Regions from separate parts of the Homo sapiens genome. Here regions 1 and 2 are each linked to region 3. A link means that fine-mapping ties the variant in region 3 to the expression of a gene that starts in the linked region. Tissue or cell type: monocytes after Pam3CSK4. Region 3 holds a variant in brackets; each other region holds the start of a gene. All regions are shown on one strand. Distances are from middle to middle.

Evidence for each region. PIP is the estimated chance that this variant, and not a neighbour inherited with it, causes the effect.
Region 1: it holds the start of MIR600HG, and the variant in region 3 is fine-mapped to the expression of MIR600HG in monocytes after Pam3CSK4 (Quach 2016, PIP 0.95).
Region 2: it holds the start of STRBP, and the variant in region 3 is fine-mapped to the expression of STRBP in monocytes after Pam3CSK4 (Quach 2016, PIP 0.95). The same link has a PIP of 0.9 or more in monocytes after LPS and monocytes after R848.

Annotation. Positions count from the first base shown.
Region 1 is chr9:123,110,709-123,118,810 of GRCh38, reverse strand. MIR600HG (MIR600 host gene) reads left to right here and starts at 3,334. Exons shown (of 1, transcript NR_026677.1): 1 at 3,334-8,102. MIR600 (microRNA 600) reads left to right here and starts at 7,168; the gene lies at 7,168-7,265. It also overlaps a transcript of STRBP not described here. RefSeq lists an enhancer at 6,703-6,852.
Region 2 is chr9:123,264,707-123,272,808 of GRCh38, reverse strand. It overlaps STRBP (spermatid perinuclear RNA binding protein), which reads left to right and starts at 4,223. Exons shown (of 19, transcript NM_018387.5): 1 at 4,223-4,373. RefSeq lists silencers at 3,798-4,277, 4,448-4,497 and an enhancer at 3,897-4,397.
Region 3 is chr9:123,329,353-123,337,454 of GRCh38, reverse strand. LOC124902266 (a long non-coding RNA gene) reads left to right here. Exons shown (of 2, transcript XR_007061760.1): 2 at 1-54. Among named protein-coding and RNA genes, the nearest start is that of CRB2, 23 kb to the left of the region's middle. The variant G/A (reference allele first, on the strand shown) is at 3,528.

The DNA.
Region 1 (8,102 bases), 220 kb after region 3:
CTGTTGGTAAGAGGTGAGCTAAGTGGGGAACATAGATTGGAGCCCTCAGATGCTCCAAGTTTATAAAAACTGCGTTACGTAGACAAGGACTGAGTGTTACCTTTAAGGAGGCAAATAAGATTTGGCTTGTAGTCAGGAGGTTTTTCTTAAATCTAAGAAATACTTGTTTAGCTAATGTCCTGCAAAAGTTAGTACATTCCCCCCAGGGGAGGCTGTTTGGTGGAGTCTTTGCCTTGTTCAGCCAGCATTGAGGGAGGACTTTTTTGCCTTGACTGATCAGTTGTCAACATTCTAATTACTTACTCCTTCTGAGGAGGGTCTTGGTCTCTCTTGGCAGAACTTTGCCATTTCTGCAGATGAACTGTGCCACCCTGCTGGTGGGCAGAGTGAAGATAGCCACTGTTTGCCCAGGCAGTTTCAGCACTGGACAAAAGGTGTCTGCATGCAGGTGTCTGCTAAATGCCCCAAGTAATGAGGTGAACAGCAGCCCTCAGTTTAGGTCATTTGGAGCAGCAGTGGACTGAAGGAGTAGGAAGGGAAGGGGAAGGAGAGATGCCAACATTTGTATCTTGTGTGCCAGGCACTTGGACATTCTTCTGAATTCTCCAGCTACCTTTCTGGCAATAGTAGTATCCTTAGTTTACAAAAGAAACTGATGCTCCAGGTTAAGTGCTAGAACCATTAATGGAACCTAGTTCTGTTCTAAAGCCTTTTTCTATTCCATCCTGCTATGGATTAAAAGGCTGCGGCCGACAGGATGGGCTCTGCTGGTAGCTAGGCCCTCTGACTTGAGGTGACTCCAGATCAGATAACCTGGCCTAAAATAGGGCTCTTTTCATTTAAATTGGTTGTGAAGAACGATTTAACATACTGGAAGGACAGACTGAAGGGCTGCATTGCATCTGTATCCACAGAGGAAGCATTTTTATCTAAAGCTTGTTTTTCTTTGAATTTCAGTGAAATCTGAGGTATGTGTTTTCACTTAGCTTATATTTTCCGAGTGCATGTTCTCTGCCTGGCCTGAGATAGGTCATGAGGATGTCTTCAACAATTTAAGCCAGACTCTGAAGGCAGGCTGGTGAGGCTTTGGCTCATTGGGTACAAGGAAGAGGAGCACAGAGGGGCAGCAGCCCAGGTCTGAGGTGTAAGTGCAAGGGGGTGTCCCTGGACGAGTACTCAGTAGAGATGGGTGGTGGCAGATTGCAGAGGTCAGTGGTCATTGCCAGGAGTTTCCCTTGGAGTAGGCCTCAGGGCAGACTGCCAGCCTGGAGTTTGCTGTCTTCCCTCCAAGTTGGACCCGTGTATGGTAAGCCCTGCTTGGATGGCTTTGGGGTCTCTAAATTGCTGCCTGTGAACCACCCTGTTGAGCGTGTTGGATTCTTCTGCTGCTGTAACCACTTTACCAGCTCCTGGGCTAATGAATGACAGCTGGGTCTCTGCTCAGGCGTGGGTGGGTGCGGGGATGGCTGCGGGATCCTTTTCAGGACAAAGTATTCCTCATCCACCCCAAGTCATCCTCTTTCTGGGCACTTGGCAATGTTTCTGTGCACCCTGCTGTAATCCTGGAGGGGAGCAGGAAAAAGGAACCTTTGAATCCCAGGCTGTCGTGTTCTAGAGCATGACTGTGTCAGGGAGAATGAGCGCCTGGCATTCATAGAACACAGTCCTCTCTCAGGCCCTTTCCCGTTTGCCATTTCATGACTTGCTGTACTGGTGGCCCTTGGAGAAGCAGCAGTGCATAGATCGTTGTTCCCACCTTGCAGACAGGGAGAGTAGAGCCCAGAGATCTCTCCAAACCACACTGCTTATTTGTGGCAAAGCATTGTGGCCCCTAATGAGTTTTTAACCACCAGAAGAAATAACATTTCTTAAGACTGTTTTTAGAGGTAACAGCAGCCCTTTCTGAGGAATTAGTTTTGAATTTCACCACAACTGGAATTAGAAATTTTCTCCTTTTACAGATGAGGAAATAGATGCTTAGATAAGGTGACTTGCCCCAAATTATAGTGCGGTGAGTGGCGGCGCTCACCCCGTCTGAGGCTATGCTGTGTGCAGGTGGTTTGCGTCGCTAGTAGGCACCAATGTCCGTTCTGTCTTCCAAGCCCACTTGGCAGCAGTGGCTTCTCTCTCTGTGATGTGTTCGGCTCACCTTTCCTGTAGGCTTCTGGGCTATCCCCTGTGCGCCTTGAAACCAAGCAAAAACCAACCCACATCTCCCTGATCCTTCCTTAGCCTCCTAAAATCCAGACTTTCTGGGCTCGTTCTTTTTCTGTTCCTTTGTTAGTGTGCTACTGGGCAAGGTGACCAACTGGTCAGCCCTGGGCCAGGCAGCCTGTTTTTTTGTTTTGTTTTCTTTTTTGCCAGCTACACAGTTGGGGTTAATTTCTACAGACCATCATTTTATACTGTAACTGAACCCTATAATAAAGTGCAAATTCAGTAATTGCTACTTGGAGAGCTCCTCAGGGGTGGGAAGGAGGACAGGGGATGTGCTGTTGGAAGTATGTGTTTTATGTTCCGCCTCATCCACACTTTGGTTTTTGGCCACATCCTCCGTTCCTGGCTCGGCCTTCAAACATGTGCTCTAACCCATGGGATCACCGTCACAGTAACACATTTTCCAGAGCAATCTGGTGTTGGGATCCCCTTGGATTCTTCCATCATGAGACTTCTCGGAAGTCTCAGCTTTCTAAAAATCCCTCATTCCTGCAGAGGCTACGTTAAAGGAATATGGTAGCCATCATCTGGGAGGTAAAAAACCTATGGAAATTGGCACCTGGGGAACTCAGGAAAGCTGAAAGCACCTTGAAATGAGATGGAAGGACCAGAAGGTTAAGGCTGGTGAAGAGGAGACCTGGAGAGAACGTGGGCACTCCTGCCAGGTATTTTTAAGGGATTATATTTATTTGTTGTATGTGGTTCCAAAGGGTGAAAGACAATTATGGGAAGCCAGTGGGGCAATTTGAGCTAAAATACACCTCCCGCGATGACAGACGCAGCCTTGAGAGAGCAGCTGAGGTGCGACATGAGCTCCCTGTAACCAGCATGTTCAAGCAAGAAGCCGGTTGTGTGGACGGCAAAGAGGAAATGCTGTGGAATGTCAGTTTGGACGAACTCTGATGTTGACTGGTGATGCTGCCAAGACCATGTCTCCCTTCTTGGGCACGTAGATTTATTGAGAAAAACCATTCACTGTCACCTACTGCTTCTTACCAGGCTCTGTGATGGGGGAGAAGGAGCAGTTGGAGAAAATGTCAGAATCTGCAGCTTAGACAACTGAGTAGAAGGTGAAATCATTGACCCAGATGGAGAGTACAGGGAGGGGAAGAAAGAGGTGCAGAGGATTTGAACAGAATGAGAGTCCTCCTCTGTGCAGGGAGAAAGGCTTCAGTGGGTCTCCCCCTCCCTGCTAGGGATCCTCCTTGCCAGCCCTGGGCTGGGCGCTGGCAGGCCCGTTCCCAGGTCTCCCGCCGAGGGCAGGAGAGGAGCCAGGCCTCAGGAGAGAAGTGCTTACTGAGTAATTTACCAAGAGCGATAGGCTTCCCACTGAGCCAGACGGGATCCCCAGGAGGGGAGTCAGAGGCGGGCCTGGCATGCATGCACAGAGAGAGTGTGCCCACTTGGGGAGTGTGAAGGGCCTTGCTGTGGGACCCGAGAGGATGAGCAGAGTCAAGTGGCAGGTGGGACACACAGTCTGCAGTCACTTCTTAAAAGGCCCTGGGTGGTGTGTCCTTCAATGATGACCATTGTCCACAATAGTGAGTTCCAGAGGGTCGATTGGGACAGTTGGATAGCCAAGGACCAGAGTCAGGAGGCAAGGCTGATGAGCAAGAGGCTGTTGCCATTGGCCAGGCGAGGCGTGAGGGAGGCTGATGGAGCGCAGCAGCAGAGGGATGGAGAGGCAGGAATGGCATCTCCTCACAGGCCAGGCTCCTCTGCCGGATTGGGTAGGGACGGGAAGATGATGGCCCCCAACCCTGGGCCAAGGAACAATAGCACCCATCCGGGGGCGGGGGACCTGCTGGAGTACTTCTCCTGGACCACTGCTCAGTGGGCAATAGAGGGAACAATGGTGTTTCTGACCAGGACGGGGGAAGGCAGGGGAATGGAGGAAGATACTGACAGGGTACAGAGGAGGTAGAATGGAGCGAGGGCCATCTCCACCGGGCTAGGAAATGGGGCTTTGGTGGGCCACACTCCATTGTGCTGGAGCACTCTGGCATCTCCATTGGCAGTGGGGAGGGGCTTGTGACCTATCAGCATCTTCACCCTTTCTGAGTTTCCGCCGGGCTGGGCTCTCCAGCCAGGAGTCACAGGTACCGGGTGGTTGTTCATGCTGAGGCCTTTTGCTTGGCAAAAAGTTAATCCATTTGTGTTCATTTTTAACCTAAGCAAGGGTTGGAGCTTGTTGGATTCAGCATCTGTGGAACACAGTCTGTAGCCCATGGGAAGACGTGGACATTCTTTCCCAAGTTCTTGAAGGACGGAAAGGACCATGAACTTGTGAGGTGACCGGAGGATTGGTTTTGGGTGTCAGTTTTGTGTCTGTCCCAGTGCTGCCACTTTTGCTTTGAAATGGACGGGGAGAGCTGAAGGCCAGCATGGGTTTCTGCACCTGTTTCCTACAGCTCTGCTGGGGACTGTGGCTCAGGTGGCAGCTGTGGACACGGATCCTGTCAGCCTTTGGGTGGCCAGAGCTCCAAGGCCAGGTGTCTCTTAGCTGCAAGCAGCCTTCACTGTTAATCAACAGGCTACACAAATCTCACCTCTAAAGAGGTGAAATGTGAAAATATATGGGAAGCGCTGCCTTAGCCCTGTGTCCACAAATCCTTTCTGTAAAGGGCCAGATAGCATTTCAGGCTTTATGGACCATGTGGTCTCTGCCACAACTGCTCAGCTCTGCCACTGTAGCACAAAAGCAGCCAGAGACAGTGCGTAAATAGATAGCATGGCTGTGTTCTGATGAAGCTTCACTTACAAATACACAGGGCTGTAGTTTGCCAACCCCTGCAAAGTAGGGAGTATTTTGCCAAACTTGGCTGTATTTCACCAACCCCTTAGACTATAGAGATGACTTACCCTTTGGCTTAATCATGACTGGAAACTTCCTTCCCATCCACTGCCTGGATCCATCCACCTCCCCACAAAGGCTTCCTGAGCATCTCCTCCGTGTGAGCACTGGCTCAATGCACAGGACGATGTAGTTCCTGCCCATATGGAACTTAGGTTTTGAGTGACACGTGGGACATTGGAAGAGGAGAGCAGGTGGCTAAAGAGCATCATACAGAACAGGGCTCAGGGAAGTCCCAGGTGATAGAATCTCAAAGAGAAGGGCTGAGGGTGAATCAGGAAAGCCCTGAAGGCAGGCAGCTCCGGAGTCGGGTTTAGACGAGGAGGCTGCAGTTCTCCAGGAAGGGAAGCAGGACCAGATAACGGATGAGATTGTGTCAAACAATGAGGAGGCCTGCATAGTCACACAGGCGCATGAGGTCTGCTCGTAAAGGACCAGGAGGGCCAGGCTCAGGGGTGTGGACTGGATTCTCTGGGCTGTAGGGAGCCACTGGACAGCTGTGCTCAGGAGGGTCATGTGATCACAAATGCTTATTAGAAATGTCACTGGCTATGGAGGACCATGTCTGTGGTTGTAAGTTACGCCTTTCCGTTTAGTCTGGACTTCCTGGTCAAGGTACTTTTGGTATTAGAGTGGGGAAGAGAGGCCCAGAGAGTTGGACAGGTTTTCTGACCATTGGCTTATAGTCAGTGAGCACCCCACCTTTATTTTGACATGACAGAGCTTTACAGAATCTTCCTTCTTCAGGCGTTTTCTTTCCTGCTATCCTAAAGATTCACGTACGAGGGCAGGATAAATGAAACATTCTGTCTCCAATCTAAGTTCGGCTTGGGGCCTCAGAATATGAAGGTAAAGGGGCGGGGACGGACTGACTGCCCCTTGCTTCAGAATCAAGTCACATGGCGGGAACGCTCTATGGAGCAGATTGCTTCCTTTGTACATGCCCTAGGCCCGTGTTCAGCAGGCCTCAGAGAAGCAGAGGTGCTGGCCTCTCGTCTCCAGAGGCTGCCAGCTACTAAGGGAGGTGGAAGCAACTACCCCTGGGGGTGGACTGCTCTGGGCCGGGCCCGACGTCAGGCGTAGGGGACTGAGGTGAATCAGACGTGGTGGCTGCATTGAGGAATGCTCAGTGTAGTTGGGGTGTTTGTAGCGCTTTCTGCTGAGCATGGTCTTTCCTCTCAGAGGGGTTTCTAGGCACGTTGAAGGGAGCTGCCGTTCAGAGCATCGGAGAGGTGCCAGGGACGTGAGCTGCTGCCAGTCTGACGTGAACAGAAGGTGGGAATAGCTGGCGCTGCCGTGCGTTGATAGGAGCACAGTGTCCGCTGCGAAGGGGCGGCTAGGGCTGGAGAAAGATGGCCTGATAGAAGCGCCTCCACAGGCGCTGATTCAGCGAAGCCCCAGCAGCCCCGCGGGGCAGGCGAGGATCACATGCAGCTCGGAGAAGAGGAGGCACTTGCCCCTCTGCCTGAGCTGGGAGGTGGTGGCCAGCTGCACACAGGGCTGTCCCAGGATGCTGACGAGGCGGGACCAGCCACAGGCCGGCAGCGCTGCACTGTGACTCCCTTTCACGGGGCCCAGCCTTGTCTCTGGCCTTCCGGGACTGAGTCAGGAGGCGAGGGCTACGTTGCTGCCCCAGCACAGTCGGGCCAGGTGTGGGGAAAGGCGGGAGGGAGGTGTGCTGTGCTCTGAGCAGCCTGGCAGGCCCTGGAGAGGCAGGAAGCCACTGCAAACTTCAGAAACTGGGTGCTGCTTCCTCTCGGTGAAGTTGTGTTTTGCTAATCTCTGATAATCAGGTCAGGGATACAGAAGGAAGAGTTGCCCCTGGGTGGCTGCTGTCTTTAGACTTGTCGGGCTCCCTCTGGTACAGAAGTGCCTCTCGGATTTTGCTGCCTGGTCTTCTCTCTTATGGACATGGAGTAGCTCTCAGGCTCTTATGGTACAGCTCTAAGAAGGAACACTTCTTGCATTGTCTAGTGAAGTTTCTGGGTTTATGGAAGGGAAACTGACAAACTGGAGCCGGCACAGATGGACACTGGGTAAAGAGAATGCAGCCTGTCCCTGGCTGCAGTGCCAGGTGTGGCCTTTCCTGTGACAGCAAGTCACGTGCTGTGGCTCCAGCTTCATAGGAAGGCTCTTGTCTGTCAGGCAGTGGAGTTACTTACAGACAAGAGCCTTGCTCAGGCCAGCCCTGCCCCTGCCTACAGGCACAGGTGCTTTGCCATCTGTCCCGTTTTCCTGCTTAGGGAACCAAGATGGTCAGAAAGTTGCTTGACTCTAACCTAAATATTTCTGCCGCTTTTGCGAGTCAGACTCTTTTTCTTTTCCTTGTTCATGGAAATGGATCAAGGAGTAGGAGTTTTAGATAGCTAGGGAGGTGGTGAGAAGTTCCGTCTCCACCTGTAATTTACAAGTCGTGTCTTAGGTTTCCAGCCTCTTTCCTCTGTTCTGGGTATCTCGTGCTCTCCACCCTTTAGGGATTTTGGTGTGGTGGGTCCGTGGCAAGACACTCGATCCAGACACACGCATTTCCGAGGCACTTCCATGTCACTTACCAAGCCTCCTTGTGTGTGGATATCACTTCACTGGCTCCCTCAGGCTGCAGCCCTGACCCCCAAGGTAGTGATGGCAGCTGGTGCATGAGGTTTGATTTGGAAGTAGCCAGGCAAGCCCTGGTTGCAAAAAATACCTCTTCTATTCCGACAGCGGGCCAGAGGCCGCTGCCATTAGACGCATCCCTCTACTTACCCCCGATCACTTTTCATGGTCAGGCCGGCCTTGCACAAGCAGGTTCTGTTCACTGCGCACCCCCATTTCTTAGATGGGGTACTGAGCACTGCTTTTCCCTTAGCTCACTTCATGTGGCAGCTTCTCAGGGATGGGACCTACCATGGCTGTGGGAGATGCTTTGCTACTACTTACTACCTTTCCGAGGGAGGAGGGCTCATTTTTAGAAATGTTACTGGGGAGCCAAATTGTAGGCCTCCGACCAGAGGGCCTCGCTCTCTCCATCTCCCAGGAACCAAGGGTAGCT
Region 2 (8,102 bases), 65 kb after region 3:
AACTCCTGACCTCAGGCGATCCGCTCACCTCGGCCTCCCAAAGTGCTGGTATTACAGGCATGAGCCCCCGGCACCCAACCAGTCTGTTTGATTTTTTTACAAAAATGTATCAGGCCCTGTGCAGAGGCTCACACCTGTAGTTGCAGCACTTTAGGAGGCTGAGGAGGGAGTATCCCTTGAGCCCAGAGTTTGAGACCAGCCTGGGCAACATGATGAAACCCAGTCTCTACTAAAAAAAATACAAAAAGTTAACCTGGCACAATGGCATGCCTGTAGTCCCAGCTGCTCAGGAGGCTGAGGTGGGAGGATCGCTTGAACCTGGGAGACAGAGGTTTCAGTGAGCCGAGATTGCGCCACTGCACTCCAGCCTGGGTGACAGAACAAAACTCTGTCTAAAAAAAAAGAAGTATCAGATATACCAGAAAAAACAAAAAATAGAGACAGAAAGTAGACTGGTGTTTGCTTGTGGCCAGGGTTGGAAATGGGATTAACACTTAATGAGCATGAGAGTCTTACGGGGGATCCATAAGGTATGCTAAATGTTCTTTTTTTTTTAGACAGAGTTTTCCTCTGTCACCAGGCTGGAGTGCAGTGCCATGATCTTGGCTCACTGTAACCTCTGCCTCCTGGGTTCAAGCCATTCTCCTGGCTCAGCCTCCTGAGTAGCTGGGATTACAGGTGTCCACCACCATGCCCAGCTAATTTTTGTATTTTTAGTAGAGACGGGGTTTCACCATGGTGGTCAGGATGGTCTCGATCTCCTGACCTCGTGATCTGCCCACCTTGGCCTCCCAAAGTGCTGAGCCACCGTGCCCGGCAAGGTATGCTAAATGTTCTGAAACTGACTTATGTTAATGTTGCACCACTTAGTGAAGTTACTGAAAATCATTGGATTGTACATTTTTGAAATGCATAATTTTATGTGTAAACTATACCTCAAGTAAATTGTTAAAAATCTATGTGTGATTACACGCCTGTAATCACAGCACTTTGGGAGGCCAAGGCGGGAGAATCACTTGAGACCAGGAGTTCGAGACCAGCCTGGCCCATCTCTACTAAAAATACAAAAAAAATTAGACGGGTGTGGAGGCACACGCCTGTAATCCCAGCTACTTGGGAGGCTGAGGCAGGAGAATGGCTTGAACCTGGGAGACTGAGGTTGCAGTGAGGCGAGATTGTGCCACTGCACTCCAGACTGGGTGACAGAGTGAGACTCTGTCTCAAAACAAAACAGGCTGGGCACGGTGGTTCACGCCTGTAATCTCAACACTTTGGGAGGCCGAGGCGGGCAGATCATTTGAAGTCAGGAGTTCAAGACTAGCCTGACCAACATGGTGAAACCTCATCTCTACTAAAATACAAAAATTAGCCAGGCATGGTGGCAGGCGCCTGTAATCTCAGCTACTCAGGAAGCTGAGGCAAGAGTATCACTTGAACCCAGGAGGCAGAGGTTACAGTGAGCCAAGATTGCGCCACTGCACTACAGCCTGGGCGACAGAGCAAGACCCCTCTCAAAAACAAAGCAAAACAAAAATCTGCATATGTATCCTTAAAAAATTAAAACAATGCAGAAATTTTTAAGTCCTCCATCCCCACACCCAGTTCTATCTTCCAGGCATAACCAATAGTGGTTGGTGTTTAATCCTTTCTGACGTTTTTCTATGGAGAATCCAACATACACATTACAGATAAATAATTTTCTGCAACTTTCTTTTTTCTTTGGACATGTAATGAGGGACATGAAAAATTAACAGTAACTACTCTGGAGTTGGGATTGGGGTAGTGGGAGTGGAGTCAAGGGCAGGAAGGGAGAGAGACATTAACTTTTTTTTTGAGACGGAGTTTCGCTCTTGTTGTCCAGGCTAGAGTGCAATCACGGGATCTCGGCTCATTGCAACCTCTGCCCCCCGGGTTCAAGCGATTCTCCTGCCTCAGCCTCCCGAGTAGCTAGGATTACAGGTACACACCAACACGTCCGGCTAATTTTCGTATTTTTAGTAGAGATGGGGTTTTGCCCCATTGGCCAGGCTGGTCTTGAACTCCTGACCTCAGGTGATCCACACGCCTCGGCCTCCCAAAAGTGCTAGGATTACCAGCGTGAGCCACTGCGTCTGGCCTAACTTTTTACTTTCTTTCCTTTTATATAATTTGCATGCTTTTGTCTCAGTGTTTGGAGTTACAAACCCAATAAAGATATTGAAACAAGAAATACTATTGAATCCTTAATGCCATGCTGTTCTTCTATTTTAAAAAAATTAAAAATGTAACCAAGTGCTGGACACCGTGCTGAGTGCCTTAGATATACGGTTGCAATGAATCCTTCTAACAACCCTACAATATGCAATACTATTAGTCTCACTTGGCAGATGAGTAAACTTAGACTAGAGAGATTGATTTTCCAAGATCACACAGCTAGTGTGCAGTGAATCTGGATCTTTACAGTGTGGCGCCTCTTCTCCCTCTGATACTTATGGGCATCCTACAAAACCCAGCTTTAATGATCTCATGTCATGTGCACGTGTAGTCTTCCCTAACACACTTAGGCAGGAAGATGACCCTGTCCTCAAGGGACTGAGAGACCAGGGAGGAGACAGACAGCTAAACAATTACAATCTAGTGCCATGAGAATACATATAGCTTAACAGGACTATGTTCAAGCCGAGGGAGCTTAGACCATGTGTCTGAGGCAGCCAAGGATCTCCAGAGAATATACTCTGAGCTGATTGATAAGGATACCCAGGATTTTTTTCAGGAGGGTCAAGGAAGGTGTGAGTGGTCAGAGGTGGGGAGAGGGTTTAGAAAGGGATTTGCGGCCTGGCATCTGTCTCAGGAGACTCAGGCTCCTACACACCTGGGCATACTCTGGAAACAACAGTACTGTAGTTCTGTGTGGCTGGAGGGTCACATTGGCCTGAAGGAGGGGCAAAGGGAAGGGCGTGCACCTTGAAGCTTAAGGCCAGATCACCAAGGCCTTTTCAGTTGAAATTGGGTTTTTTACACTTTATTCTGTGAATGAAACAGAGCTGTTAAAATATTTGAGCCTGGTGTGTTAGAAAGATGAAAAGGGGCCCCAAGGGGGCTGTTGTGGGGAGTCCCTCCTCAACCCCTGGGCTGTTCAAGGTCCTCTGTCTTGGCACTGAGTGGTCAGGTCGTTTCTGCTCCAGGCTGGGAATTGTCTTAGGGCAAAGACATTGTCTCATTTGCCAGTGCATCCCTGCAGCCTGCAAACCCCCCGGTATACAGCAGGGACTGTATACTGGCAAGCAGAATGCTGGGCACCAAGAACTTGAGGCCAGGGACTGTAGAATAGAAAGCGAACCTTTAATTCTTCCCCAGCGCCGCCCCTGGCACAGAGCTGGTAGGTGTTCAGCCAAAGTCTGACCCAACCATAAGGAGGTCAGAGAGGTCCTGGGCCCAAACTCAATCCCAGCGAGGTTCATTATAGGCAGGTGAAGGAGAGGTGATTGTAGCAGCTTCTGTTCAGCGACTGCTGTGTGCCAGGATTCACACCTATTGTCTTATGCCATCTCCCCAACAGCTCCTAAATTGGAATTATTGTCCCAGTTTTCCTGATGAGGAAACTGAGGCTCAGAACGGTTCTTGGTAACTTGGCCAAGGTCACACAGCCAGCAAGTAGGTGGGCGGTGGCACAAGTCAAAGCCTACTGGCCTGCCCCTCTACCTCGGGAGGCAGTGCGACGCCTACTCCATTTGTGTGGCTGCTGGGGTTGGGGGGCATCCCGCACTGGGGTGCGGGGCCCGGGGAAGGCGGCTAGCCGCCGCGGCTCGGCGCAGCTCCCAGGTTCGGAAGTTACGAAGTTTCCGTGCATTTCGCTAGCCTCCCAGCGCAGCTCGTCTCCGCTCCGCCGCAGTTACGCCGCTAGCGCAGCGGGGCTCAGGTGCTGCAGCGAGCGGGGGCCTGGGGCCGGGAGGAAGGCGGGGACGCAGTTTACGTAAGCGTCCGCTGGCAGGTGCATAAGGCCGCCGGCGGCGAGTGCTCCCTGCGCGCTCCCAGGTGCGCACTTGGCGCAGGCGGCGGCACAGCAAGGCGGCGGCGGGCGCTGGCCGGCGCTCTCAGGTGCGGCAGGACGCGCGTGGAGGGGGCGCGCGGCGAACGAGGGGGCGGGCTTTCCGTTCCCCAGCAGCCGCGGGGCCCGCCCCCTGGCCTGGCCAATGGGCGCGCTCGACGGTGTCACGTGCTCGCTGCCGCCGCTGCCGCCGCCGAAGCGGAGACCGGAGCCGCGAGCGCCACCAGGGCAGCAGCCGCCGCAGCCGCCGCCGCTGGGCAGAGGAGCCGGAGACGCGAGCGGGCGAGGTGGCGGCGGCGGCGGAGCGGGAGCGGGTACCGGGCGCGGGCAGAGCGCGGCGGCGCGGGTAGGCTCCGGCGGCGGGGCGGGCGCCTGCGCGGCGGGCCGTCCCGGGCGGGCGGCGGTTAAGGCGGCGGTTGAGGCGGTTGGCGGAGCCGGCCCGGGCCCCGCATTGTTTGTTGTGCGTCCTTAGCAGCGGCGGCGGCGGTGGCGGCCGAGGCGGAGAGCAGGGAGCAATCCCGGCCCCGCGGCTCCGGCATTGTGGCCGCCGCCGCCGCCGCTGCGGTGCCCCGGCCGCTTCGGGCAAGGGCAGCGGGCAGCCTTCCTCACCTTCGCGGGGACGGGGTCCCGGCCGATCAGGGGAGGGCGTGGGCAGGGTTGGGGGACGCGGTGCCGGGAGGTCTTCCGGGACGGAGGGCTCGGGGCTCGGGGCAGGTGTTGGAGGACATTGGGGGCAGGAGCTGGGGAGAGGCTTCGGGGGGCAGGCGGAAGGTGTGGGCAGATTTGGGGGTAAATAGGGGTGCAGAGGGATCCGGCCCAATGGAGGAGGAGAGCCTTCAGGCAGGTTTGGGGGGCCCCCTGGGCCAGGCGAGTGCGAGATGGAGGACATTCCGTCCGGTGGGGGGGGGCACTATATTGTGGGGTTCAAGAGGGAATGAGGGGGCTTTTGGGGAGGGCAGGGACGAGTGGGGTGGGAATGGAGGGAGAAGACTGGGGACTCGAGCAGGACTGGAAGGAGCGCTGCGTGCCAGGGGCAGGGAGTGGGGCGGGTATTAGGAAGGCCACCGGGACGCCCGTGAAGGGGAACGATGGAGGAGGGGGTCGGGGCAGGGGGAAGTGAGGGCAGGCAGGGAGCGCCTGAAAGGGAGGGAGGGGAGCAGGGTGCCTAGGCTTCTGGGGTGATAGGGAAATGAAGGGTAGGCCCAGGGGCTCCAGGAGACCTGCGAGGGGTGTGAGGGAGTGTGTGGCCAGGTGTATAGGGGAGCCTGCAGGGAGGCGGGAGGGGGTTGACATGTAAGGATAAAAAGGCAGGTATCTGGTGCTCAGGGAAGAGGAGTATGGGGTGGAAGGGGGAAGTTCATTGGGGCAGAGACTTAGTTTGAGGGCTTGCAGAGAGAGGTGGGGACAGTAGGAGAAGGGTGATGGGGATGGAGAGCAGGAGGTGTGTGGGGCATTTAAAGGATAGCGGGAGAAGTGCGTGAAATGGAGGGTGTTTATGCAGGAAGTATGGAAGAAGGTGGGATCAGCAAGAGAGGGAATTTTGAGGTAGGACGGAGGGTGAGGGGTTCTTGGCAAGTGTTGGAGGACGTTAGGGGCAGGAGCTGGGGGAGAGGGACAGGTGTGGGGTGGCGTGGAGTGTGTGAGGTGGAGGGCAAAAGGGGGTGGGGAAAGGGAAGTGTTCTTGGAGTGGCAGGTAAAGTGTGGGGACAAATGGAAGGAAAGATTTCTGAGGCGGGAAGTGTGGAGCGGTTGGGGAGGAGGAAGGTGGAGGGGAGGGTGAGAACGAAATCAGTAGAGGGGGACAACGGGATAGACTGGAGGGGAAGGTGGACAGGTCTGGAGTACAGTAGGTGGAGGGAGGGAAGCACAGGTTTGGGGCACTGAATTTTGTGCTGTAGGGAGAAGGGAGGTAGGGAGAAAGAAGGAAGGTAGACAGGCTATTTTGGGGTAGAGGATGTAGAAGAATGCTTAATACCTATAGTGGAGTAAGGGAAGGGCAAGGCAGAGGTGTATGTGGACATGTCTGTAACTAGAAAGGCATAGGTGATGGATTGGAGTGGTGGTGGTGGTGGTGGGGGAAATAGGATGCCCAGGTTTAGGGCAGGAAATGACTGCTTAAGTTGGAGAGAGCTAGGAACACAGGTTGCTTAAGAGAGTATGGAAGATCCAAGGAGTGGAAGTATGGGGAGAGATTGGAACACTTTGAGTTTGAGAGATGAAAGGGGCCAAGATTTTTAGGTCACTGAGAGTCTAAGGAAGATCAGGCAGAGTGCAGAAGTTGGAAAAATAACTAAATGGAGAGGATTAAATTCCATACTGAGAGAAACTGGAGATTGAGGGGTGGGGGGACCTGGATCCTGGAATGATGTTAATGGAAAGTGGAGGACATTAAACTCAGTGTCATATCTGAAAGTTCATACTCCTAGGGTCAGAGAGATCGTTGAGCCTGCTTTTAATTCCAGAACCCAGTAAATGAGGAAGGGGGAAGGGGTAAGGGAGAGCTGAGTGCACATCCCCAAATTTGGGAGAGGTGTGTAGTGGGTATCATCCTAGCATATTGGTTTGACGAGTGGACAGAAGGGCCACACAGGGTCACGAGGAGCGCACCAAGAGTGAATGGAAATGGGATTGCAGCAGGTGCAGGGCAGATGTCTTTGTGAAACTGGAAGAGACCAGGCCCAGTGGCCAGTAGCATTCAAGGGCTATGCATAAGAGAGGAAGAAAGGGATACCTTGGTGCAGTGTCTCAGATACCCTGGTGCTTTCTGGGTAATGGGTCAGTATTCAGGCAGCATGGGGTGATGTAATATCTGAGTCCCATGCTATAGGCAGACAGAAGTAATGTACACCTAGCTCCTAAAAGTGGCAGAATTGGAGCTTTCTGACTCTTAACACTCTTTCAAGGCGTGAATAACTGATCTGGATTGTTGACTTTTTCTCCCAAATGGTTCAGGTAAAATTTAGTTGGAGGCTTTTGGATTCTCTGGTATTTTGATTTGAGTTGGGAAGTGTAATGTTAGCTTTATTGAGGAAAGACACTTATGGGTTGGGCGGACATATGGCCTTCAGCTTGCCAAACACATGGGAAGTAACCTTTAGGGGTTTGAACACAGACATTTATTTCAGTGCAAGTCTCATTCACTGTTCTGTGGCTTGTGTTAGATTCTTAGGGGTTTGAAAGGATTAAGCAAACTACTTTGAGACTGCTTCAGTAAGCAAGGTTTCCTAGAATCTTGGAAAACGATTTCCCTTTTGACAGTTGAAAATTAAGTCTTGTCAGATTTTGCTAAGAAATAAATTTCATCATGTTGCAGAAATAACTTCAATTATCACTCTGTGGGCTTCACGTAATGTGTAGTGTGGTACCTAGTATGATTTCAAATAAAAGGTTCGCTTTGGTAGCTTGGGAGCTTTCTGGGTTGATTAGTTTTCTTCTTTTGTCGATTTAGGAAGTATCTTAATGCAGCCATTGTATGTTCGAATAATAAGTTTGAGTGGAAGTGGGAATCTTGCCTAAACATAATGAGGGCGGAGCAGAACACCAAATTTTAAGTAATCGGAATCCGTTAATATAAATATTAAAAAAAAAACCTGGAAGCAAATGATTCGTAAAATCCAAATTTGAAGTGTGTCATGGCAGCAAAAGAATGCTCTGAAGGCATTACTGTAAGATTTTATTTTTGGAGGGAAAGATTTTTAGAGTATAATGTCCCTTCGATTGAAACTCTGAGTATTTTGAGATTTGATATATGTATACAATATAATATAGGGAGCATGTCTGACCTCATTTGCTTTTTGGCAGAGAATTTGAGCAGTAGGATATAAGATGAATAGAGTGAGCTTTGAAAGTTCTCTCCAACATAGCCATTGTTTCCTCCTTATATTTCTTAAGTCCATTGTGTTCATTTTATTGACTTGGGGTGCGCACTACTTTCTTGCTCAGAATACTCAATTCTGGTATAGTGTTCGGATTATATGTATTGTTCAGTGAAATTCTATGAATTGGGACAATTTGTAGGCACTTTAGATATCCTAAGTTTACGAACCAAGGAAAGCAGGTTATTTAGGCTTTGTAG
Region 3 (8,102 bases):
AGAGCAAGACTCTGTCTAAAAAAAAAAATAATAATAAATAAATAATCATTGAGATATCTTACTTTCTTCCATACTAAGTCTTCAAAATCCAGTGTGTATTTCACACTTGTAACACATCTCAGTTTGGAACAGCTGCATTTCAACTGCTCAACAGCCACATGTGGCCAGAGGCTACTGCACTGGGCAGCACAGTGCTAGACTATAAACTCCATGAGGGCAGGGACCAAGCCATACCCACAATTATTAAATCTAGCATCTGACACAGAGTGGACACTCAAGAAATGTTTGTTGACTGACTAGCTGAATGAAAGAATGAATGAACAAATGAATGAAGGAATGAACAAATGATCTAAGGCCTTCTCAGATCTGAAGCCACACTCCCAGCACAGGCCATGGGAAGGGCATGGAGATGAATTCCAGCCCCACCTCTGCACCCACTTCTCTGAGTGACTGTAAGTACCTCCACTTTTGGGGCCTCAGTTTCTCCAGCTGGTCAATGGCTGGGGGGCTGGACTCTTGTGATTTTTCTGGGCTCTCACTAGAGGACTTTACCCAGAAGATGGGAGTTGGGCCCTCGGTGAAGTTCCCTCCTCCATGCCACCCCATCACCCTACTCTCCCTCCACCTGTAAGATAGGAGATCTCAGGAAAGGCCTCCAGGTGGCCTTCTGTACAGAGTGGAGCCACACCCAAGAGGGGAAAGCTGAGGCAAGGCTTGGTACCTTGGCACAGGCAGCAAGGCCAGGGTGGGGGTGCTGAGGCTTGGCCTCCTCCCTCCAGCATCATCACCCCCACACCTCACATTTGTTCAGAGTTGAGAAGAGAGCAGGGCGGGGCTTATCCTTTCAGTTCTGCAGAGAAGGATAAAAGAGACCGAGAGACATGCCAAGACCAGTCTGAGGTCACATGGGGGGCATGACAGAACTGGCTACTGCCCTAGACCTCTGTTTTTCTCATATGAAAAATGGATACAAAATGTGTCGTCATCCTATCAAACATCAATGCCTCAAATCCAAGCTCCACTACTTAACAGCCCTGTGATCTTGGGCAAGGTTTACCTGGCTGTGCCTCAACATCCTTATTTGTAAATGGGTATCATAATAGTGGCAACCTTGCGGGGTTGTTGAACCATTAATGTGTGAACGTATGTAAAGCGCTCATAAGAATATCTAGGACACTGTGAACGCCATATGAGTGATAGATATTATTATCAGCCTTTATCACAGAGCTGTACTGCAGTTTAAATAAAGGAAGAGGTGTGACCAGGGTTTGCAAACTCTGAAGTCCCCTCTGGAGAGGTAAGCACCTTTTGGCTGCAAAGAATGTTGCAAACTATAAAATGCCGTGTGACTTGCAAAGCACTTTGTAAATGTTGCCGCAGTGAGGAGGCTATTGTAGGTTAGCCTTTCATAATCCAAAAAGCACTTCAAAATCATAAATCACTTTGGGGACCGAAGAGCTCTTTGTAGGGGCTTTCTAGACTGTTGAGTGCTGTGCAAGTCAGAGACAAGTGGCCTTTCAAAGACATGAGCAAGAAGCCGGGGGGGAGTGGGGAGAGAAAGAAACCAGCCCCAGAGAATAAAAACAGCAGTCGTTTTCCTCTGCTCTCGTCACCTCCCGTGCCAGCCAGTGCAGAGAAATTCCAGCAGATCTGCAGATTCCTGCGATTCTGTGCTGAGGCCAGGGAGGCCTCCCTGCATCGCTGACTCAGCCAAACGAGAGGGTGTGAGTTAAGCAGGAATCAGCTCCATCTTCCTTGCTTCTGTGCCTCTTCTTTTTTCTTCCTTCTGCCACAAAGGCAATGAACCTGACACCATTTAAAGATTTCCCTCTTTGGCCTCCTGATGACCTTGCCCTGAGGCCCAGACTTGGGCCTGCTCTGGAGACCCAGCCTGGGATGTCTGCCACCCCCATCATGGAAGGAGTAATAGGGCTGTGAGGGCAGAGGGCAGGTGGGGCCAGGCAAAGACCCTGGGCTCCAATCCCAGTTCTGCTATTTCTCATCTATGACCTCGGGCAAGTTCATTTACTTCTCTGAGGCTGAGTCCCTCAGCCATAACATGGGGTTGACAATGCTCATCTTGTGTGTCATCGTTAGGTGGCCTGGTGTGCATGCAAGTTCTGTCCCTTCCTCTAACTGTAGGCATGAGGGCCTTCTGATAAGGGAGAAATAGATACCAAGGCAGCTTCTACAGTGTAGGGGCTTTGAGCATGAGTTTTCAAATCATAAAAACTTGGGTTCAAATCCTGGCTCTGGCCAGGCCCGGTGGTTCACGCCTGTAATCTCAGCATTTGGGGAGGCTGAGGCAGTCAGATCAGATCACTTAAGCCCAGGAGTTCCAGACTAGCCTGGACAACATGGCAAAACCTAGTCTCTATAAAAAATTTAAAAATTAGTTGGGCATGGTGGCACACTCCTACAGTCCCAGCTACTCTGGAGGTTAAGGATTAATGCCTACAATCCCAGAGTAGCAGGGAGGATCGCTTGAGCCCAGGAGACGAAGTTTGCCATGAGCCAAGATCACACCACTGCACTCCAGCCTGAGTGACAGAGTGAGACCCTGTCTCAAAACAAAAAACAAAACAAACAAACAAAACTTCTGGCTGTGCAACAAACCAGCTGTGTGTCTTTAGGCAGGTCATATTACCTTTCTGAGCCTCTATTTCCTTGACCCATAGGATGAGCATAATAGTCTATCTTGTAAAGTGTTTACAAGGACTTGAGACATGATGCATATGGCATGTGTGGCACAAAACCTGGCACACAATCACAGCTCAATGAATGGTCACGATGATTCCCCCACCTCCCCAGGCTAGTTTGACAGTCTCATTGTATTCCATCATATCACACACGTCTCCTTCAGGTGTTTCCTCATGCTTTCAAGTAATAGATTAAAAGCTTCTGGACCCAGCCAGAACCTGCCACCCCTGCTATTTCTGCAAACCCCCCTGAGATCCCTTTTCCACAGCTCACTCTCCTCTACTCATATCTCTATCTGCAATATGTCAACCTCAATGTGAAACTCAACTCCTTCTTGAGCCTGTCACAAGCCAGGCATGAACAATACATCCTCTGCTATAGATTTCATTAACGGGAGAGGGGTCTACACTGCAGCCTCTCTTCCCAGGAATTGTGGTGAACATAGTCATCTTCGTCCAGTTACAACCATGGGTCTGTATACCCCTTGAGGGATGTGGCTACGTGCCTTGTTCGCTGTTGCTTCCCCAACACCCAGTGCAATATCTGGCCCCCAAGAGGCAGATCTAAAACACGCGGTGAGTAAATTAATATACGACAGGGAAAGACGCTCTTGAGCTGGGGGAGAATCATGTGGTTGTCCAGTGCCCTCAGCTCTCAGGTCAGTTTTGTGGCAAGGGGACAGATTTGGTCCCCGCTGCAGTCAGGAAGAGGCTGATACTGATGTGTGTCCATTTCAGACCTCAGAAATAACCACCTGCCCAATACAGTCTTGGCCTTTTCAAGGTTCATGTGCCTATTAACACTTGGGGATCCTTCTTCACCCTCAG[G/A]TCTGATGCTTTCCCATCAGCAATTGTCACCAAGAGTGACTAAGACACAGGACAGTGGTTCCCCAAACCAGCTGCACATCAGAAGCCCCTGGGAAGCTTTGGAACACCAGAGCCACTTGGAGGTCAGGTTCCCCCGAGATCCTGATTCAAATGGTCTGGTGTGGGGCCTGATAATTGATTTGTTTAAAAATCATAGCTGATTCAAAATTATATCACTGACGGCCAGGCGTGGTGGCTCATGCCTATAATCCCAGCACTTTGGGAGGCTGAGGCAGGTGGATCACCTGAGGTCAGGAGTTTGAGACCAGCCTGGCCAACATGGTGAAACCCTGCCTCTACTAAAAACACAAAAATTAGCTGGGTGTGGTGGTACGTGCCTGTAATCCCAGCTACACAGGAGGCTGAGGCAGGAGAATTGCTTGAAGCCAGGAGGCGGAGGTTGCAGTGAGCCGAGATTGTGCCATTGCACTCCAGCCTGGATGACAAAGCAAGATTCCATCTCAAAAAAGAAAGAATAAAGAAAAAGAAAAAAAATCACTGAGGCAGAGAAAGGTACTTTTTGTTTTGTTTTGTTTTGTTTTTTAACAAATGGGTCTATGAATGCCTGCGGGCTTTCCATCTAAAGCCCTCCATGAGTCAGGCAGTCTGTGGGCTGGATGAGGGCCCGGCTGAATGCTGGAGAGGAAAGCATGTGGGCTTTGGAGTGACTGTAGATGTGGTTTTGAATTTTACAACGTCCTGGCTCTGTAGCCTTGGGAAAGTCACTTCACCAATCTGAGCCTGGGCTTCCTCCTCCATCAATTAGCAATCAGAATTCCTGCCTCACAGGTCGGCTGGGAATAATCAATGAGAGAATGTCGTATGTAATTATCTGGCACAGGGCCCAGCCTAGGGTTGGCGCTTTGTAAAGTGAGGTTCTGTTGCCTTCCTGAGCAAGCTTGGGGTAGGAGGGGAGGGCAAGTGTGGCCCCCACATTGGCCTGAGCCCTTGATGGGAAGAACACTGGACTGGGAGAAAGGAGGTGTGGCCCTGTCCTAGTTCTAGACCATCATGAGGTGTGACCTTGGCCAAGTCACTCCCATCTCTGAGGCTCGGCGACCCCATTTGACTCAACCCTAGGAGGTAGTTAAGTGGTGAGATTTAGGGGGAGATTGACCTGGTTCAGCCAATTATCTGGGGCAAGGCACTCAACCTATTTCTTTGGACCTCAGTTTCCTCCTCTGTAAGACAGAGATCCATTGGTGCAGATTCTTCCCAATTCTGTGTTCAGTGATATCATATTGGTAGCTTGAAATCAACCATAGTGGGAGTATTTACACCAAGGAAATTGGCAAACATTACACATCAGGGATCCCCCCTCACCTTCCCCCAGCAGTTTACCAGCACACCACTGGAACTCAGATAACGATACCTTCCGCCATGCATGTTGGGAGTTTCAGAAAGCTATTGCCTGTTTTTTTAAGCACTTAGCACAACACCTGGGACATAGTGGGCACTCACACATGCTAATTAAACACACTTAACATTTGTCAGCCATCACTTTGCTTGGTATAAAGTGTTCACACATCTGTCATCTTATATAACTTGATCAGCCCCAGGAAGTTTCCAGAGGAGGAAATCCAGGCTCAGACAGGCTTGCTGACTTCAAATGCAATTACATTTTGCAGGCCCACTCTATACTGAGTTATTCTTACATATCCATCCCATTTCAGCCTCACAACTCCCTTTCATTACAGATGAGGGATCAATGGCCCAGAAAGGGCGAGCGACCTGCCCAAGGTCACAACGCACTGAGTCTGAGGCCTTGGTATCCATCTTGAACCTGCTTCTGCCAGTGCCCATCTCTGCCAGGCACCCTCCCCACCCCATCTAGCTGCCTAGTCTCCAGTGAGGGCAAACTCTGCCGATATGATCTCTCTGGCCCTTTCCAGCTCTGACATCCTCAGTATTTAAATCAGCACATGAATATTTCACAAGTATCCCGGGCGAAAATAACCCCCTGCCTGGTTATGTCAGGCTGCGGCCCCAGTCGCTAGGCCACGGCTCTCTTGCTATTTGCGAGACATGCAATTCTGCGAGGCCTCCCAGCAGCAGCCCAAGGAATCGATAGTCTTTAAATAAGTAATTAGAGGAGCGGAAGACGTCGGCAGAGCTAGAAGGGAGCAGGGGAATATAAACTCATAACTCTCCCAAGTTCACTGTTAAGAGCTTGGTTCTGTTTTTTGGTCAAGAAATGTGGCAGGGCCTGGGGCAGGGTGAGAGATGGCGACGGTCAGGGGAGAATCAGAGGAAAACAGTCATTGTTGTTATTTATTGGGTACTTCCTATGTGTCAGGCTTTGTCTCATGATTGCCTTACCCAAAGTTCTCCTAAAGTCATTGAGGTTCAGAGAGGGGAAGTCAGTTGCCCAGGGCCACACAGCTGGAGAGTGGCAGAGGCTGCAGCCCGTCTGACCTCTGAGCAGGGTTTCTCAGTCTTGGGTTATTGACATTTGGGGCTGGAGCATTCTTTGTGTTGGGAACTGTTGTGTGCAGTGCAGGGTGTTTTGTAGCATCCCTGGCCTCTATGTACCAGATGCCAGTAGCACCTCATCCCCACTTGTGACAACCAAACATGTCTCAAGATGTCGCCCAATGTCACCTGTGGGGCAGAATCACAGACCACAGTATACAGTCTGTGTTCACTTTGCTGCTCTCTTCCTCTGCTTTTAGGATATGGATTAAAACCCTTCTCTTAGGCCAGGCATGGTGGCTCACACCTGTAATCCCAACACTTTGGGAGGCTGAGGTGGGCAGATCACCTGACGTCCGGAGTCTGCCCAACATAGAGAAACCCCATCTCTACTAAAAATATTTTAAAAATTAGCTGGGCGTGGTGGCATGTGCCTGTAATCCTAGCTACTTAGGAGATTGAGACATGAGAATCACTTGAACCCAGGAGACAGAGATTGTGGTCTCTGCAACAGAGATTGCACCACTGCACTCCAGCCTTGGTGACAGAGTGAGACTCTGTCTCAAAAAAACAAACAAACAAACAAACAAAAACCCTTAGCCTTAGCCTAGAGAGGCAGATCTGGAGACAAAGCTGGCTGCGTGGGAATACCAACTTCTCTACTCACTGGCTGTGTGACCTTGGCCAAGTTGTCAACCTCCTTATGCCTCAGTTTCCCTCTCTGTAAAATGAGGGCCTACACAAAGGTTATCATGAAGTTTAGACTAGTCAATATACCCATGTAACAAACCTGCACATGTACCTACTGTATCTAAAATAAAAGCTGAAGTTATTTTTTTAACGTTAGTATTATATATCCAAAGCATTTAGAACAGTGCCTGGCACGTATGTGTGAACCCCCGTCGTGATCCCAGAGCCTACCTGACCAAGCCCCAGCCCATCTCTGCAGCAACCCTGGTACCTCTCTCCCCATGAGAATAAAAAGAGAAACTGTCCTAGAAGCTAGGGAAGAAGCATCTTTGACAACTTCTGCTGTTCCTACCTTCCCTGATGCACGCTGCTTCCCACCATTCCTGGAGGAGTTGGGAAAACAGCAATAAGGATGGCCTTTGGTCCCAAAGGTTCCCAAGGTAATGACAAAAGCTGCTACTTCCTGTCTCCCTGCAGCTCTCTCTGTGCATGAAGAGGAGGGTAGAGGCACTGCACACTGATTTAACAAACGCATCCGATTAGAACACGGTTCCTTTTATTATCCGGAAAGCTATAAAAATACATAGAAACGAACATATTTTATCACTGGAGTTGGTCTTCACATTTTATGGGTCTGTAGCGGGTGTTTTTGTTTTACCGACATTTGTTAGAAACAAGGTTCTGGAACGTTGTCCTTGTTTGGGTGCTCGTGAGAAATTGTATCCAGAAAGGCATTTCAGGACCTGTCCCTATGGAAACAGCCCCACTGCAGGAGTGTGCGTGACAGGGTGAGTGTGAGTGCGTGTGTGTGTGTGTGTGTGTGTGTGTGTGTGTGTGTGTGTGTGTAGCTAAAGTCCTCCTTTTTCCCAGGAGCAAGGGTGCCTAGGGATTACCTGGTCCAGCCTTCTCATATAGTTGAGGAAACTGAGGCCCAGACAGGGCAGTGCTTTATCCAGGATCACAGAACAACTCGGTTCAGCAACTATTTTCTGAGCGTATTAGTATCACCTTAGCTGCTCTAATAAACACCCCCACCCCAGTAACACAATAGACTTTTCTTGCTCACAGGACAGAGTTCCTGGTTGGTCAATGAGCCTTCCACTACGTGATTCAGGGACCCAGCCTCCCTCCTTATTGTGGTGACACCTTTTCCTAGAACTCAGAATCATCTGCTTTCGTCTGGATGAGGGAAGAATTTGGAGGATTACACATTGAAGGTTTTTATGGTCCAGGCCAGAAGTGGCCCATGTCACTTCCGTCCATGTCCCACTAGTCAAGGCTCAGTCACATGTCATGCCTAACCACAGGGAAGCCGGGAGGTGTCACCTGGCTCTGTGCCCAGGAGGAAGAGAAAGGCTGGTGAACAACTGTCCAGGTCTTGGTGCCTGGGCTGGAAGATGCATGAGCAGAGGAATGAGACAGCAGACCTGCCCT